Linked DNA regions of Homo sapiens: region 2 is linked to region 1. Evidence: fine-mapped expression QTL. A gene starts in region 1. The other region holds a variant in brackets. All regions are shown on one strand. Distances are from middle to middle.

Region 1 (9,191 bases):
CAGGCACCACTGCACCTGATGGTGCCTGCTTTTCTTTTCTTTTTTTTTTTTTTGAGACGTAGTGTCACTTTGTTGCCCAGGCTGGAGTGTGCAGTGGAGTGATCTTGGCTCACTGCAACCTCCGCCTCCTGGGTTCAAGTGATTCTCCTGCCTCAGGGTCCCGAGTGGCCGGGATTACAGGCGTCCGCCAGGACGCCAGGCTAATGTTTTGTATTTTTAGTAGAGATGAGGTTTCACCATGTTGGCCAGGCTGGTCTCAAACTCCTGACCTCAGGTGATCCACCTGCCTCAGCCTCCCAAAGTGCTAGGATTACAGGCGTCAGCCACTGCACCCGGCCTGGAAAGTTGTTTTAAAGTTCAGAATGGAGGTGGAGGGGTCTTGCCCAGGGAGAATCTATTTAGTCGAAAAAACAACAACAACAACAAAAACAAAAAAAAAACAGGCCAGTGCAGGTCAATAAGTGACAGTCAGGGAATTCTGGATCTTTCAGGAGTGGATTTTACTCTAAAACTTCGTTCTCATCAATTTAGACTGCATTGCCATTAGCATTCTACTAAGATAGACTAGCACTTATTTCAGAGGAAGAAAAGAAACAAGGGACAAGAGGACAAGTAAGTGTCCGAGCCACTCAGCATTCATTCCAGACACACTGGCCGGGTGCTGCTCTGGGAGAGGTGCCCAGCAGGCCATCTGGAACAGCAGGGCTCTGCGGCAGGAGGACGCAGGTGTGACCTCAGCTCTGCGCCCACCAACTATGAGACTTCAGCAAGTTACTCTATTTCTGTGGGTCTTGGTTTCCTCACTTGTAAAAGGGGAATAAAAGCCTCCTAGAATGGAGGCACCTACTGAAATACAGCAAAAGCTCCTGGATGAAGAACACATAACAAGGGGGAAAGGAGGAAGGTGTAGCTCTTTGGGCCCAGGGCAGTCTCTCCTCATCACTGAGCCCAGTTACCACGCGCTTCCTAGGTACAGCGGTCACAAAAGGGACCCACGGAAGGTACAAGGGAGAGAACTCTCATTCGGGTGGGGCTAAGGGAGGACAACACAGGGGAGGCCTCAAAGACCGTCCTTCAGGGCAGGCAGCATACGGCAGGAGCTCACAGTGATGTTCTAGCAACCGGAGCAACACAGCTAAGGATGCTGAGGCTAGAAAGTGTTGCCAAGAGCCAGAAGTGCAGGAAAGGGACCCAGCAAGGTTAGGTGGAGTCGATTCAGGGCTTACTAAGGTCATCAAAGCTGACTTTTTTTGAGACTGAGTCTCACCCTGTTGCCCAGGCTGGGGTGCAGTGGCGCGATCTCAGCTCACTGCAACCTCCGCCGCCTGGTTTCAAGCGATTCTTGTGCCTCAGCCTCCCAAGTTGCTGGGATTATAGGCGTTTGCCACTATGCCTGGCTAACTTTTGTATTTTTAGTACAGACAGGGTTTTGCTATGTTGGCCAGGCTGGTCTCGAGCTCCTGGCCTCAAGCAATCCATCCACCTCAGCCTCCTAAAGTGCTGGGATTATAGGCATGAGCCACAGCGCCCAGCCATAAACTGAGTTCTTTTGGAGGAAGGGGAATGGGAGCTGTGAAAGGTTTTTGGAACAGGGGAATATGTTTTAGAAGATGAATCCTAGCCAGATGCAGTGGCTGACACCGTAATTCCAATACTTTAGGAGGCTGAGATAGAAGGATTGCTTGAGGCTAGGGGTTTAAGACCTGCCTAGGCAGCATAGCAAGACTTCATCTCTTCAAAAAAAAAATTGTTTAATTAGCTGGGTATGATTGGTGCTGCGCTCCTGTAGTCCCAGCTACTTGAGAGGCCAAGGTGGGAGAATTGCTTGAGCCCAGGAGTTTGAGGTTGCAGTGAGCTATGATCCTACCACTGCACTCCAGCCTGGGGGACAGAGCGAGACCCTGTCTCAAAAATCAAAAAGATGACTTCCACAGTGGCGTGGGATTAAGTGGGAGGGAGTGGGCAAGTAGGAAGTAGAATGGCCCAGACCACTTTGGGGCATGGCAAGGAAATGGCCCATTCCAGAGTCCAGCAGGCTGGCAGAGGTGCAGGAGAGAGACACCTTCTGGACTCTAGAAGGCAGGTTTGAAGTCCTCTGCACAGAAGCTCCAGGGGAGGGAGCGCACAGAGAGATAAGATGCAGGTAGGGAGGCTGAAATTAGGGGACAAGAAGGAGAGACTGAAAGGAGAGAGGATGAAGAGTGAAGACCGACGGGCTCCAGTGTTGCGGAGTTCGAGGAGGATCGGCTGCAGCCACAGGGCACCGGGGTTAAGGACGGAGGGGCCACCGGTAACCTCGGGGAGTACAAGGAGGAAAGAGATCTGGATGCATTTCCACGGAAGGCTTTTTGGAAAGCAGAAGAGAGCTGAGCAGGGGGACAGGGAGACACACAAATCACTGAGATGCTGTTGGGAAAAAAAAATCACTCCTAAAGAGGCAGAGGTGCAGACCTTTCGAATTTACGTTGATATTCAGGGTCAGAAAAGAGTATATAAGGAAGGAGATTCTGAGATGATGTCATGGAGTACAGAACAGACTGAAAAAGATGCTGATGGGAAAAGTGCAGACAGGAGTGGGGGTGGAGAAAACACACCCCTCCTCCCCTAGGCTAGCCCGCTGGGTTATCCACTTTGCTCACCTTCACCTGGCCATCTGCTTGCCAAGTGTGCTCTGTCACCTAAATCCAACCAGATCACAGCCACCTGCTGCAGGGTGCTTCCCTTTTGCCCCCAACCAAAAATTTTGGAATTATACCCTTGGTTCCCCCAGAGTTATCTGTGAACCCAAGTGATCTCCTGAGCTAGACAGTAAGGGCCTGGGAGGGCCATGCCTCACACCTGGGCCAACAGTAACCCATGGTGTAGATTTTCACTCGAGAGCAAGTGTAAAGAAGTGCTGACATTTCCAAACGAAGAAAACCAGGCCACGCCTTCATTCAACAAATGTATAGGGAAAGGAACAGGAAGAGGCTAAGAAGTCAGTGACCTGGCCAGGCGCAGTGGCTAACGCCTGTAATCCCAGCACTTTGGGAGGCCAAGGCGGGTGGATCACTCGAGTTCAGGAGTTTGACACGAGCCTCGCCAAAATGGTGAAACCCCGTCTCCACTAAAAAAAAAATACAAAAATTAGCCGGGTGTGGTAGCACGTGCCTGTAGTCCCAGCTACTCAGGAGGCTGAGGCAGGAGAATCACTTGAACTCGGGAGGCGGAGGTTACAGTGAGCTGAGATCATGCCACTGCACTCCACCCTGGGTGACAGAGCAATACTCCATCTCAAAAAAAAAAAAATTGGACAGGAAGTTTTAGAAAGATCCACGCCTCCCAAACTGGGAGTGCTTAGTGCTTTCTCATGAAATGATCTTAGGTGATTTTCCCCCGACTCCCGCCTTCCCCGCCCCCCACCCCCTGACTACATACTCTAAACTGTAGCACTTAGCTATTAACACCTATTATCGGTAGGACACTTAACAGTTTACAGAGCACTTTCATGTCAGTAACAAGAACTTGCTAATTAATAATCACCGGGTTTTAGCACTGTTAACTTAGTGACAGTGTTGCAAATTGGCTAGCTGTGCACTTCTCTCTCCTTGGATCAGCTAACCAGTCATGCAAGCATGCAACCGGCCTATCAACTCTCTTTGGGTTTGGAATTCTTAATTGCTGCGGTCTCTACTCCCAAACGTCCAAATCTGGCAGAGATTAAATGATGACAGTAATTATAGGATCACTGAGTGCCTCTCATATGCTAGGCACTGTTCTAAGCGCTTTTTCACGTGCTTAATTTTCACATAATCCCAACACATTTTTATATCTCCATTTTCCAAAGGAAGCAACTGATGGGTGGAATGGCTAAGAGCTTCAACCAAAGGCACAGAGAAATCGGGGCTGGAGCCAAGATTTGAACACATGATCTGACCCTGTGTCCTCACTCTTAATCACCATGCTGTGCTAGATCATTCTAGCAAAATGCTTATATGGTGCTTTGCACAACACAGGTATTCAGCAAATAAAGGCAGCTGTGATTAGCATAACACAGGTAGTTTCTAGTTCCCACGAGTGTCACCTCCAGGAAAGCAGCGACCTTGTCTGTCTGGAAGAATGCAGCGCTCCCAGCACCTGACCCAACGCACATTTGAGGGATGGATAGAAAATGAATGAATGAAAGTCTCTCCCAAATAACAGAGCTGCCTACGCATGGCTCTTTTTCGCATGTCTGTGTCGCGCTATCGATACTGCCCCTTCATAAGCGCATCAGGCGAATTTGAGGACACAGAGAGGCGCCCGGAGACGTACGATCTGCGCCCGGTGCAGGGGTGGCGGAAGCAGCTTCCAAGGAGGCAGGGGATCAGTCTGAGATCGCACTGCTGCTGACGGGTCCGGGCTCCGGCGGGACCCTGCCCGCCCGGGCGCCGGGACCGGAGGGAGACAAAGACTCGCTGGGCCGCCGCGCCGACAGAAACGCTCGCACCCCTCGCCCACCCCTCCGGGATGCAGCCCAGCGCCTCCGCGGGTCCCCGGCCTGGGAGCTTCAGCGGCGGCAGGGTCCGGGCCCTGGGCGGAGAGGACACGCGCTGCGCACCTCCTCGCCTCGCCGGTGCCCGCGAGGGTCGCTCGGGCACGGGAGGCCGCGGGTCCCGGCCTGTCACCTTCAGGGCCGCCTGCCCACCCGCCCGCCGCAAGCCCTTCAGCACGCGCCGCCCCCGCCGCCGCCTGGCTGAGTCTCCCAGCGCCTCAGCCTCGCCGCACCGCTCGCCTCGCGCCCCGCACCCCGGCGCCGCCCCCAGGCCCGCCCGGCCCGTACCTGCTGGGAGAGGGGGATGAGCGGCGCCGCCATCTTCCCGCGGACTCGGGCTCCGAGCGCCGGGGGAACGGGGGCGGGGCTGCAGCCACGCGTGCGCACTGGGACGACGGGAGGGCGGTGCGCAGGCCGCCTGTCCCGGGAGAGGGCGGGGCCGTAGACAGGGCCACGCATGTGCAGTCAGGCCGGGAGGGGCGGGGGCAGGGGCGGGGCCGCCCACACGCAGCCTGGAGGGGCTGGGCCTGAGGCATCTGCGTCTTCCGTGCTCTCTTGCCCGTTCCCCTACTCCTCCTTCCAACGTTGTTCGGACTCTCATGCCGCTGGCCGCTGTCCGAGTCGACCATGCTGTGTCATCCCTCCAGCCCATGCCGAGGCCTGGTTCTCTGTTAGGGATGCCGTCCCCCTGCCAGTGCGCCTGGGGAGGCGGTCGCCCACCCCGCGGAGGGTCGGGACCCTCACCCTGCCCCGCAAAGCGCCCTGTTCCTAGGATCGCAGTGTGTGTGTGTGTGTGTGTGTGTGTGTGTGCGCGCTAATTTGGGGGACCCGCACCCTGCCCCCCTCACCCTGCCCCGCAAGGCGTCCTCCTGGCTGTGGTGGCGGGCACCTGAAATCCAAGCTACTCAGGAGACTGAGGCAGGAGAATTGCTTGAGCCCAGGAAGCAGAGGTTTCAGTGAGCCAAGATCACACCATTGCAATCCAGCCTGGGCAACAGAAGCGAAACTCTGTCTCAAAAATAAATAAATAAATAAGACAAGAACCCACTTGTTGCCAGGTACAGTGGCTTACACCTGTAATCCCAGCACTTTGGGAGGCCGAGGTGGGAGGGTCATGAGGTCAGGAGTTGGAGACCAGCCTGGCCAGTATGGTGAAACATCAATATGGTGAAACCCCATCTCTACTAAAAAAAATACAAAAATTAGCAGGTGTGGTGGTGCATGCCTGTAGTCCCAGCTACTCAGGAGGCTGAGGCCAGAGAATCACTTGAACCCGGGAGGTGGAGGTTGCGGTGAGCCAAGATTGCACCACTGCACTCCAGCCTGGGTGACAGAGTGAGACTCTGTCTCAAAACAAAGTCAAAAACAAAAAGAACCCACTTGTAACTGTTGCTAATCAAAGCATACATTCAGGGCAACTTGAATCTGTGTCTCCTGGACTGCGGTCCTCAACCTTGGCCCAAACTCTCTACTTATATTAACTTTGCCTCAGCTTCTTTTGTTACATCAATAGAGTAATGAAGGTTTTTAACAGTCTTGAGTGCTTTATCAGTACGTATTCCATAAGGAAAAGAGAAGTCCTTCTAGGTACTTCAAACAGAGGATATTGAATACAGGGGATTGAGCCAGGCTCTGTGGCTCACACTTGTAATCCCAGCAATCCAGTTGAGACAGGTAGATTGATACCAGCCTGGCCAACATGGAGAAACCCCATCTTTACTAAAAATACAAAAATTAACCCAGTGCAGTGGCAGGTGCCTGTAATCCCAGCTACTCAGGAGGCTGAGGCAGGAGAATTGCTTGAACCTGGGAGGGGAAGGTTGCAATAAGCTGAGAACTCACCATTGCACTCCAACCTAGGTGACAGAGCGAGACTCTGTCTAAAAAATAAATAAATAAAAATAAATGAATACATAAACGACTACAGGGGACTGAGTATAAAAGTGTTGGAAGTACTGGAAGAACAAAAGAGGAAGGTAAGTTTACCTAAAGATTCATAACTATATGAGGCTGCTAGCCTCTCTAGAGCTGAAAGATTAAAGCAGGGGAGGTGGCTGGGCATAGTGGCTCACGCCTGTAATCCCAGCACTTTGGGAGGCCGAGGTGGATGGATCACCTGAGGTCAGAAGTTTGAGACCAGCCTGGCCAACATGATGAAATCCCGTGTCTACTAAAAATACAAAAATTAGCCGGTTGTGGTGGTGGGCACCTGTAATCCCAGCTACTCGGGAGGCTGAGGCAGGAGAATCACTTGAACCTGGGAGGCGGAGGTTGCAGTGAGCTGAGATCACGCCACTGCACTCCAGTTTGGGCAACAAGAGCGAAACTCCGTCTCAAAATAAATAAATAAATAAAGCACAGGAGGACCCATAACCCACAATCACTGTGCCTACAGAAGGATCCCAGATGTGTTCACCCTTGCTAGCCACAGTTGCCTCCACCATGATTGCGAAAGTCACAGTTGTTGTTGTCACCACCACCTAAGCCACTGGCAGAAGTCTGAAAAAATGGTTTCTCCCCTCTTTCTGCCTCCCAACTTTGTTCTAATAAAGCATGACAGGAACGTTGCCAATTGGCAACGGCGTCCAGGAAATGTAGCATGCAGGCTTTAAGTGCCAGTATCAGAGTCTAGAATGGTGGTGGCCATAGAAACTCTCCAGCATCATCTTGTAAAAATAATCCAAACTTGGCTGGGCGCGGTGGCCCACACCTGTAATTCCAGCCCTTTGGAGGGCCGAGGCAGGCAGTTCACGAGGTCAGGAATTCGAGACCAGCCTGGCCAACACAGTGAAACCCCATCTCTACTAAAAATACAAGAATTAGCCAGGCGTGGTGGCGGGTGCCTGTAATCCCAGCTACTCGGGAGGCTGAGGCAGGAGAATTGCTTGAACCTGGGATGGGGAGGTTGCAGTGAGCCAAGATCGCACCATTGCACTCCAGCCTGGGCAACAAGAGCAAAACTCCGTCTCAGAAGAAAAAAAAGAAAAAAAAAAAGGCCGGGCATGGTGGCTCACGCCTGAAATCCCAACACTTTGGAAGGCCGAGGCAGGCAGATCATGAGGTCAGGAGATCGAGACCATCCTGGCCAACATGGTGAAACCCCATCTCTACTAAAAATACGAAAATTTAGCCGGGCATGGTGGGGGGTGCCTGTAGTCCCAGCTACTTGTGAGGCTGAGGCAGGAGAATGGCATGAACTCAGGAGGCGGGTCTTGCAGTGAGCCGAGATCGCGCCACTGCACTCCAGCCTGGGCAACACAGAAACTTCGTCTCAAAAAAAAAAAAAAAAATCCAAACTTAATCATACACTTTTGAACCCTAAGAATTATGTTGAGCCTTGAAGAAAACGGGACTGTGTGATCTGAGCCAGACAGCATGTAACTACAACTTCTGCTTATAGATTATAGATTAACTCTCCTGTTCTTGCTCTGTAGATTCATTTCAAGACTAAATGGCATCAGCGTTAAGATCGCCCTTCTTCATTGCTGACCTTTCCTCTATTATCTTGCACCTAAATCAGACCAGATAGTGCAAAAGGTCCTGTGACTGTTATGTCCTCTATGTGAATGTTAAATATACCCTTCCCAAAAAGACCACTGCCTTGACTAATCAGATTACTGTTAACTATGTACTTGCCTTGTGTGAAATATGTAGAAACGCTGTCAAGCTTCCCAAACCTTACCTATATAAATGACCCCCAAACTTCCTCAGTTTGGAATGCTGATTTCCATTCTTTGGAATCTGTGTTCCAGGGTGGCCGTCCTCAAACTTTTGTGCTAAACTAAACTCTATATTTAACCATATTTCCTGAATTTATTTATTTAGGGTTGATGTTTTGATGATCCAGATGGGATCTGAAGTGGAGTTCCAGTGATCCCTGCCACTTCTCACAATCAGACCCTTTGTACTGTTACCGCAAAGGGGTCTTGATCCAGACCCCGAGAGGGTTCTTGGATCTCACCCAAGAAAGAATTAGTGCGAGTCCATACAGTAAAGTGAAAGCAAGTTTATTAGGAAAGTAAAGGAATAAAGGAATGGCTACTTCATAGAGCAGCCCCAAGGGCTGCTGGTTGCTTTTTTTTTTTGGGAGAAGTTTCACTGTTGTTGCCAGGGCTGGAGTGCAATGACGGGATCTCAGCTCACCACAACCTCCACCTCCTGGGTTCAAGTGGTTCTCCTGCCTCAGCCTCCTGAATAGCTGGGATTAGAGACATGCACCACCACGCCCAGCTAATTTTGTATTTTTAGTAGATGTGGGGTTTCTCCATGTTGGTTAGGCTGGTCTTGAACTCCCAACCTCAAGTGATCCGCCTGCCTCGGCCTCTCAAAGTGCTGGAATTACAGGCTTGAGCCACTGTGCCTGGCCAGGTTGCTCATTTTTATGGTTATTTCTTGATGATATGCTAGACAAGGGGTGGATTATTCATGCCTTCCCTTTTTACTTATTTATGTATTTATTTATTTATTTTTTGAGACGGAGTCTCGCTCTGTCACCCAGGCTGGAGTGCAGTGGCGCGATCTCGGCTCACTGCAAGCTCCGCCTCCCGGGTTCACGCCATTCTCCTGCCTCAGCCTCCCGAGTAGTTGAGACTACAGGCACCCACCACCACGCCCGGCTAATTTTTTTGTATTTTTAGTAGAGACAGGGTTTCACTGTGTTAGCCAGGATGGTCTCGAT
Region 2 (9,191 bases), 120 kb before region 1:
ATGGTGAAACCCCATCTCTACTAAAATACAAAAAATTAGCCGGGCATGGTGGCAGGTGCCTGTAATCCCAGCTATTTGGGAGGCTGAGGCAGGGGAATCGCTTGAACCCAGGAGGTGGAGGTTGCAGTGAGCTGAGATCGCGCCACTGCACTCCAGCCTGGAGACAGAGCAAGGCTCCATCTCAAAAAAAAAAAAAAAAAAAAAGAGAGAGAGAGAGAGAAAGAAACCATTTGAAAAAAAACAATCAAAAGTTGCCTCTTATGTGAAAGATCTGATGGCTAGGAGGGGTCATTGTTCATTTTCTCAGACGTGACCTTGGCATCGAGTATACGTTAGCATGTCAGTCGCCACACGTCTCAGTGACGTGCGCTTCAGGGCACGTGGGCGAAATGGCATCCTGACTCCAACTTGCTCTAAAGTGCTTCTCCAGAGCAAAGGAAGACAGCCATGCGGCAAAGGTGGAAAATCTGGATGACAGTTGACGCTGGGTGGGGGTGTTTACTGTCCTTTTCTCTTCAACTATTATGTTTGGAAATTTTCATCATACATTTGTTCCAATTGGATACTCTATTCTTCAGGAAAGGGCGTGAGTGTCCTTTGCCGTGGAAGAGACTGCCAATGGGAGAGGGGATGGATTTGTGGATTTGATGTTGATTATTTACACAGCAGGGGAGTGTGTGTGTGTGTGTGTGTGTGTGTAGCAGGGAAGGAAGGAAACAGGATTTGAGACTGGCTTCTAACTTTTTAAAGGGTCTGAGGACCTCTTTAAAAATCAGATGGAGGCTGGGCACAGTGGCTCACACCTGTCATCAGCAGCACTTTGGGAGGCCGAAGCGGGAGGGTCACTTGGGGCCAGGAGTTGGAGATCAGCCTGGCCAACATAGTGAGACCCTGTTTCTATAAAAATAAAAATAAAATAAAAATTAAAAAAAATTAGCCAGGGCCGGGCACGGTGGCTCATGCCTGTAATCCCAGCACTTTGGGAGGCTGAGGTGGGCAGATCAAGAGGTCAGTAGATCGAGACCATCCTGGCTAACACGGTGAAACCCCGTCTCTACTAAAAATACAAAAAAATTTGCTGGGCGTGGTGGCGGGCGCCTGTAGTCCCAGCTACTCAGGAGGCTGAGGCAGGAGAATGGCGTGAACCCGGGAGGCGGAGCTTGCAGTGAGCCGAGATCGTGCCACTGCCCTCCAGACTGGGTGACAGAGCGAGACTCCGTCTCAAAAAAAAAAAAAAAAAAAAAAAAAAAAAAAATTAGCCGGATGTGGTCAGCTACTCAGGAGGCTGAGGCAGGAGGATCACTTGAGCCCAGGAGTTCAAGGCTGCAGTGGGCTATGATTGCGCCATGCACTCCAGCCTGGGTGAGAGAGCGAGACCCCCATCTCTTAAAAAAGGGGAAAAAAAAAGATAAAAAGTTATGAACACTGCAAACCCACATACAATAAAAAACAAACCAGGGCTGGGTGCGGTGGCTCATGCCTGTAATCCCAGCACTTTGGGAGTCTGAAGCAGGCGAATCACGAGGTCAAGAGATCGAGACCATCCTAGCCAACATGGTGAAACCTCATCTCTAATAAAAATACAAAAATTAGCCAGGCATGGCGGCGTGTGCCTGTAGTCCCAGCTACTTGGGAGGCTGAGGCAGGAGAATCACTTGAACCCAGGAGGTAGAGGTTGCAGTGAGCTGAGATCACGCCACTGCACTCCAGCCTGGTGACAAAGCAAGACTCCGATTCAAAAAAAAAAAAAAAAAAAAAAGAACAAAAACAAAAAACCAGCAAATGTGCATTCAGGGGTTCACTGCTTTCCCTAAAAACGTCCCCTCCCCTGGGTAAGAGCTCCTAATTCAATACATGGTTTTCCATTTCTAAGATATCAAGAGCCATCACCTGCCTCTTCTGGGTACGGTGAATATGCAAATAAGCAGAAGACAACAAGAAACTAGAAACCCTGAAGTTTTCTAAGAAACCCTCAATTCTTTTCTCAAATCAGCAAAACGAGCCTCCGCCCCTGGCTGGCTTCGGAGCTCTGGGCAAATGACTGCAGGGAATGAGTCTCAGTTTTCCCTCAGGAAAATGGGCTAACATCCACCCTCTTCATTTACAAGGTTGCTTTGAGTTTCCAACAAGATAATGGAAGCTGAATCGCTGTGAAAATTGTGAAGTCCCAAACCAAATGGTGCCAAAGCTGTGACTACCCTGGAGAGAGGTGACTCAGCGCCTTCTCCAAAGGGATCTATCACGGCAGAAGCACATGGCTTGGGACCTTCAGATTCACTCTGGGGTTTTCCTGCAGGAGGAAGGAAGTATTGGGAATTGCCTCCGGCCATGACCACTTTCAGGAAGCTGCTCGTTTTTGCAGAGAAGATTAGGGGCATCTCAGAGGTTACAAAGCCCACGAGGCCCCACCAGGCCCCAATCCACAAAGCAGGCCCATTCCATGGGCACCAAGAAGACGTCCCCTCCCAACACCCTCATCTCCAGGACTGCAGGGACCCCTCGAGGGTCTGTAACCTGGAAAAGGGGGATTACCAAAGGTTTGGAATCTTTACATTCGCCCAAATCCACCATAAACTTCAGTTTATGGTTTATAGATGACCCTTGAACAACACAGGTTTGAACTGGGTGGGTTCAGTCATATGTGGATTTTCTTTGTTTTGAGCCCGAGTCTCACTCTTGTTGCCCAGGCTGGAGTGCAGTGGTGCGATCTCAGCCCACTGCAACCTCCGCCTCCCGGGTTCAAGTGACTCTCCTGCCTCAGCCTCCCTAATAGCTAGGATTACAGGCATCTGCCACGACACCCAGCTAATTTTTGTATTTTTAGTAGAGACGGGGTTTTACCATGTTGGCCAGGCTGGTCTCGAACTCCTGACCTCAGGTGATCCACTCGCCTCAGCCTCCTGAAGTGCTGGAATTACAGGCATGAGCCACTGTGCCCTGCCTGTATGTGGATTTTCTTCCACCTCTGCCACCCCAAGACCAACCCTTCCTCCTCCTCCTCCTCGGGTTACTCAATGGGAAGATGATGAGGAAGAAGACCTTTATGATGATCCACTTCCACTTAATGGATGGCCAATATTTTTTCTCTTCCTTTTCCTGAGGATTTTCTTTTTTTGTTTTTGGAGATGGAGTCTCGCTCTGTTGCCCAGGCTAGACTGCAGTGGCACGATCTTGGCTCACTGCAACCTCTGCCTCCCAGGTTCAAGCGATCCTCCTTGTCTCAGCCTCCTGAGTAGCTGGGATTACAGGTGCCTGTCACCACGCCTGGCTAATTTTTTGTATTTTTAGTAGAGATGGGGTTTCACCACATTGGCCAGGCTGGTCTCGAATTCCTGGCCTCAAGTTATCCTCCCACCTCGGCCTCCCAAAGTGCTGGGATTACAGGCATGAGCCACTGCTCCTGGCCTTTTTTTTTTTTTTTTTTTTTTTTTTGAGACAGAGTCTTGCTCTGTCACCAGGTTGGAGTGCAGTGGCACGATCTCGGCTCATTGCAACTTCTGCCTCCCGGGTTCAAGCCACTCTCCTGCCTCAGCCTCCCGAGTAGCTGGGATTACAGGTGCCCACTACCATGCCCAGCTAATTTTTGTATTTTTAGTAGAGACGGGGTTTCACTGTGTTGGCCAGGATGGTCTCAATCTCCTGACCTCTTGATCCACCTGCCTTGGCCTCCCAAAGTGCTGGGATTACAGGCGTTAGCCACCACGCCCGGCCCTGTATTTTCAATCTCATGAATTACTGCCCTGAGACGAGTCTATGTAACAAAATATCTGAGGCTGAAAAACTGCTTTTTAAAAATAAATCTACCTGAGGCCAGGAGTTTGAGACTAGCCTGGCCAACATGGCAAAACCCCATCTCTACTAAAAATACAAAAAATTAGCCAGG[C/T]ATGTTGCCTAATGCCTGTAATTCCAGCTACTTGGGAGGCTGAGACAGGAGAATTGCTTGAACTTGGGAGGTGGAGGCTGCAGCGAGCTGAGATCACACCATTGTACTCCAGCTTGGGTGACAAGAGTGAAACTCTGTCCCAAAATAAAATAAAATAATAAATAAAAATAAATCTATGTCCAGTGGATCCAGGTCAACACCAGCCTTCTAAGTCATGTTGATGACATGGATCTTTGATGTGATTTGATGTCAATACACTTCATCTCTGTGGTCTTCCTCCCCCAAGTCCAGCTCCACATCTAGTCACGGGAAAAACATCAGACAAATCCCAGTGGAGGGACATTCTACAAAGCACCTGACCAGTTCTCCTTGTAACTGTCATCAAAAACACACAACGTTTGAGAAACTCACACAGCCCAGAGAATTCTTTTTTTTTTCCTTGAGACAAGAGTCTCACTCTGTCGCCCAGGCTGGAGTGCAGCGGTGTGATCTCGGCTCACTGCAACCTCTGCCCCCCGGGTTCCAGCGATTCTCCTGCCTCAGCCTCCTGAGTAGCTGGGATTACAAGCGCCTGCCACTGCGCCCGGCTAATTTTTCTATTTTTAGTAGAGACGGGGTTCCACCCAGCCCAGAGAATTCTAACGAGATGTAAGGTCTGAATGTCATGGGGGATCCTGGGACAGAAAAAGGACATTAGGGGGAAAAACGAATTTTTTTTTTTTGACAGGGTCTTACTCTGTGGCCCAGACTGGAGTGCAGAGGTGCGATCTTGGCCCACCACAACCTCCACCTCCCAGGTTCAAGCGATTCTCCTGCGTCAGTCTCCCGAGTAGCTGGGATTACAGGCATGCTCCACTACCACCCGGCTATTTTTTGTGTATTTTTAGTAGAGACGGGGTTTCACCATGTTGGCCAGGCTGGTCTTGAACTCCTGACCTCAAATGATCCACCTGCCTCGGCCTCCCAAATGGCTGGGATTACAGGTGTGAGCCACCGTGCCCTACCTGCATTTTTTTTTTTAGACGGTGTCTTTCTTGTCGCCTGGGCCAGAGTGCAATGGCATGATATTGGCTCACTGCAACTCCACCTCCTGAGTTTCAAGTGATTCTCCTGCCTCAGCCTCTCGAGTAGCTGGGATTACAAGTGCGCACCACCACGCGCGGCTAATTTTTGTGTTGTTTTTTTTTAGTAGAGACAGGGTTTCACTATGTTGGCCAGGCTGGTCCCCAACTCCTGACCTCAAGTGATCCCCCCCACCTCGGCCTCCCAAAGTGCTGGAATTACAGGCATGAGCCACCGCACTCAGCCAAAAAAACAGAGCAATTCTGAATAAAGTAAGGACTCTAGTTAATAATAATGAATCCGTATTGGTTCATTAATTGGGATGTAAGTAATGTGTAATGTAAGATGTTAAAAATAAGGTAAACTCTCTAAGGGGCTTATGGGAACCCTTCGTATTTTCTTTGCGATCTTTCTGCAAATTTAAAACTGGCCAGGCACAGTGGCACATGTCTGTAATCCCAGCCCTTTGGGAGGCTGAAGTGGGAGGATCACTTGAGCCCGGGGAAGTGGAGGTTGCAGTGAGCTGAGATCACACCACTGCACTCCACCCTGGGTGACAGAGCTCAGACCCTGTTTCAAAAAAAAATTTTTTTTAAGGATAAATTGTCTAAGGGGCTTATGGGAACTCTTTGTATCTTTGTGATTTTTCTGCAGGTTTAAAACTGTCCTAAAAAATAAAGTTGGTTAAAACATAAAAATGGGCAGGGCTTGGTGGCTCACGCCTGTAATCCCAGCACTTTGGGATGCTGAGACAGGAGAATTGTGTGAGTCAAGGAGTTTGAGACCAGCCTGGGCAACATGGCAAGATCTCATCTCTTAAAAAAAAATTTTTTTTAAAAGTAAAAACTTAAGATTTAAAGAGCAATGTTCCACCTGGTTGATCTGCTTCCTGATACCCATGCAGGGAAAACAATGTTTACAGAGATTAAAGAAGCTTCTCTTGTTTTGTATTAAAATATTTTATATTAATCATTCAAACTTCATTTTATACAACGAGTGCATACACCACTGGGGGAGTGTCTGACTGATGCGTGGGAGGGCGGGTGGGGATGTCTGCAGCTATGAGTAGGGAGGAGGCGGGGAAGCCCTGGGTGCTTCCTCTCCTCGACTGACCGCTGTGTGTTCGTCCCCAGAGGAAGAGCGGGAGGCAGTCAGCCCCGGGGGGGATGGCACAGTGGAGAGACGGACCTGCAGAAGTGGTGGCCAAGGCCTCTGTAAGGGCTTCCCCAGGAGATGTGACCTTTCCAGGTCTTGCAGCCGAGTCTGCTCACCCTGAACAAGCCCCCGAGTCCCGGTCCTTGGAGTACGGTGGCGACGGTGTGTGTGTGTATATATAGACATCTGCACTGCCCCCTCTCTGGAACCCGCCCGTGCCCTGTCCCGCCTACACACGGCCCTCGCCTAGGCGGCAGGCATGTCAGCCTTGCTGAGCGCGATGGCCAGTTCCAGGTCCTCCTGCTCCTGCCGCCGCAGCCGCGCCAGCCTCTCCTGTTCCGCCTTCTCGCTCTCCCGCTTGGCCCACGCCAGCTGCTGCTCCTCATTGCCAAACTGCAAAGGAAAAACGGAGAGTGGGTGATGTGGCCCTGGGGCTGGGACCTGCAAGCTGGAGGGAGGCAGGGAATGCGTGGGAGGGGTCAGGGTCCTGCCCACCGCCCAGCGGAGGGTCCGATGTGCAGGGGATAAGCATGTCTTGGCTGGGCCCAGTGGGCGTGCGAGCCTGTCTCAGGCCCCCCATCTGGAAAGCAGAGTGGACGGGATGCATGTGATTGAGTGTGACCTTAACCATGACCTCTGGGCCTCAAAGAAACCAGCCACCCCGCCCCACGCAGAGAAGTGAGGATGGGCCCTTGACGCTGGTGGCCAAGAGGTGCAAAGATGGGGAACTTCCAGCGTGCATGGCTCTAAAGCCCCACGGCGCAGACAATTCTGCACTCTGGGAATGTGGTATTTCTACCTCCAGCCATGCTCCAGAGAGCTCTGAGACCCTCTGAGGGTCATTTTCTTTTTCTTTTTCTTTTTTTTTTTTTGAGATGGAGTCTCGCTCTGTCGCCAGGCTGGAGTGCAATGGCGCGATCTCGGCTCATTGCAACATTCACCTCCCAGGTTCAAGGGATTCTCTTGCCTCAGCCCCCTGAGTAGCTGGGATTACAGGCATGCGCTACCATGCCCAGCTAATTTTTGTATGTTTCGTAGAGACGGGGTTTCACCATGTTGGTCAGGCTGGTCTTGAACTCCTGACCTTGTGATCCACCCGCCTCAGCCTCCCAAAGTGCTGGGATTACAGGCGTGAGCCACCGCACCCGGCTCTGAGGGTCAATTTCTCCCAGAACACTGACAAAAGGTGTGGCACTTACACTGCCATTTAGTCAAGTTTTTATCCGTGGGGTGTTTTTCTAAAATGTTCAGTTAAAATAAAAACTTAAAAAAGGGAGAAAACCATCTTGATGCTGAGATAGGTGATTTCAAACAACTCAAAGTACTTTAGTCATGAAAAGAAAAGCCACATCCCACAAGCTCCTCCCCCAGGGTGGGTCCCAATGTCCCAGACTTCCCTGAGAGGTCACTGGCATCATCGGCCCCCTCAGGAAAGCTGCTGCTGCTTAGGGATTCAAAGGATTCCCTTATTAATGTCTCTCTGCGATGCACTGCCTCTGACCAGCTCTCTGCTCAACACTGGAGTAACACCAAAGATAACATGCGCAGTGGCTCTTCCCCAGGCACCCTTGGGAGCAGAAATATACAAACAATCCCAGAACGATCCAGGACCCAAGGACCCAGGCTCTCGAGGAGGGCCCTGCAGACTAACCCAGGAAGGTGGGGGAAAGAAGCACACAGGAACACTCACGGCCTCTCCACCACACGCAGCACTAGGTCTGCGTGACAACCTGGGGGTGGGCCCGCTGTCATCTCATCCCTCTGACAGCTGGGGACACTGAGGCCAGGGAAGGGGTGGCTCACACTCTAGACTTTTTCCCCCCCAGGCCTGTGGGGAGCAGGATACTAGGTGAAACTGACAGGGAGGATGCGTCCCTGCGAGGTTCTGGGTGTGAGGCTCAGTGCCCGACCTTGGGGTAGCCAGGATGAAGCGTGGGGTGGGATAAGCCAGACTGAGGAGGGGCTCGTGGGCCCCAGGAAGGAGCTGGGATTTCCCCGTGGAGGCTCCTTGGGCGAGCGAGTTGGGTGATCAGATTGGCAGCGTCTGGATATTTCACGGCTTGATGGTGGCATGAGCGGGAAGCAGGAGAGAGGAGGGCCAGATGGCAGGGCTGGGGGGACTGGGCAAGGTGCAGGAGCAGATAAATGCAAGGAACCTGGTTGGGAGGCAGATGTGGCAGTGAGGGGGATGCGGGGCCCTGGAGGCCTCCCTCTAGCTGGCCTCAGGACCCAGATGGGGGACAGGCGGAGTGTCAGTATCAAGAAAAGATGTCCCTGGGAGGAAGGGCTGAGTCTTGACTTCTTAAAGAGGCACTGCCCAGCTAAACACTTGGGGGTCTGATGAGTCTCCAGGTCGGACTCCCTCCCCGCCATTGTGTCACTGCCAGGGGCACAGATAAGCATCCCCCCCGCCCCAGTTTGGGGAATTTTCCAACACCTCATGGGGAGAAAAACAAGGAAAAACCAACAAGTGCAGGTGGAAATTATTCCATGGTGCTGCTGACAACAGTGGGAGGGAGACAGTGCAGCTGACGGGGACCTCACCCTCCACCAGCCTTGAGGACAGGGTGGGTGGGAGCTGACAGTAATGTTCGCCTGGATCCAAATCAAAGCCTGGAACGACCAAGTAACCGGCCTGCTGGGTCTGAACCACAGCCCTCTGGCCGCCTTTGGCCCCACTGAGCCCCCGTGTCACAGTGTCACTGAAGCGCCTTCCCTTGACGGGTCTGTGTTTCCAAATGAAAGGTGTCAGCAGGAAAGTTCCTGGTGCCTTCAGAGTCGACCGGTTCAAGGCCAGCTCACGAATCCACTGTGGAGACTTGCATTGGTGAGGTCTGTATGCACTTAGGAGGCACGCTGGGCTGTGAGGCCTGGGAGAGCTCTCCTGAAAGGGGACTCCGCAGCTCCCTCTGTGTCTGCTGTCTTAGCCCTGGACGGGGCCACCTTCTAGTTCTCGTATCTGGGTGGGTCACACGGGCCAGAATCTGGATGTCTGTGGCCGATGCAAAACCAATAGTGGCTGGGAAACACACTGGCTCTGATTTCTGCTTCCCTCTGGCATTACCATGGAACCGAGACACCGTAGGGGCAT

Evidence for each region.
Region 2: its variant is fine-mapped to the expression of EPS15L1 in whole blood (TOPMed, PIP 0.98).

Annotation. Positions count from the first base shown.
Region 1 is chr19:16,467,112-16,476,302 of GRCh38, forward strand. EPS15L1 (epidermal growth factor receptor pathway substrate 15 like 1) reads right to left here and starts at 4,859. Exons shown (of 24, transcript NM_001258374.3): 1 at 4,802-4,859. The coding sequence starts at 4,834. RefSeq lists enhancers at 4,037-4,948, 4,181-4,330 and silencers at 4,411-4,630, 4,691-5,090.
Region 2 is chr19:16,349,359-16,358,549 of GRCh38, forward strand. EPS15L1 (epidermal growth factor receptor pathway substrate 15 like 1) reads right to left here. Exons shown (of 24, transcript NM_001258374.3): 24 at 5,889-6,493. The coding sequence ends at 6,347. Among named protein-coding and RNA genes, the nearest start is that of KLF2, 29 kb to the left of the region's middle. The variant C/T (reference allele first, on the strand shown) is at 3,884.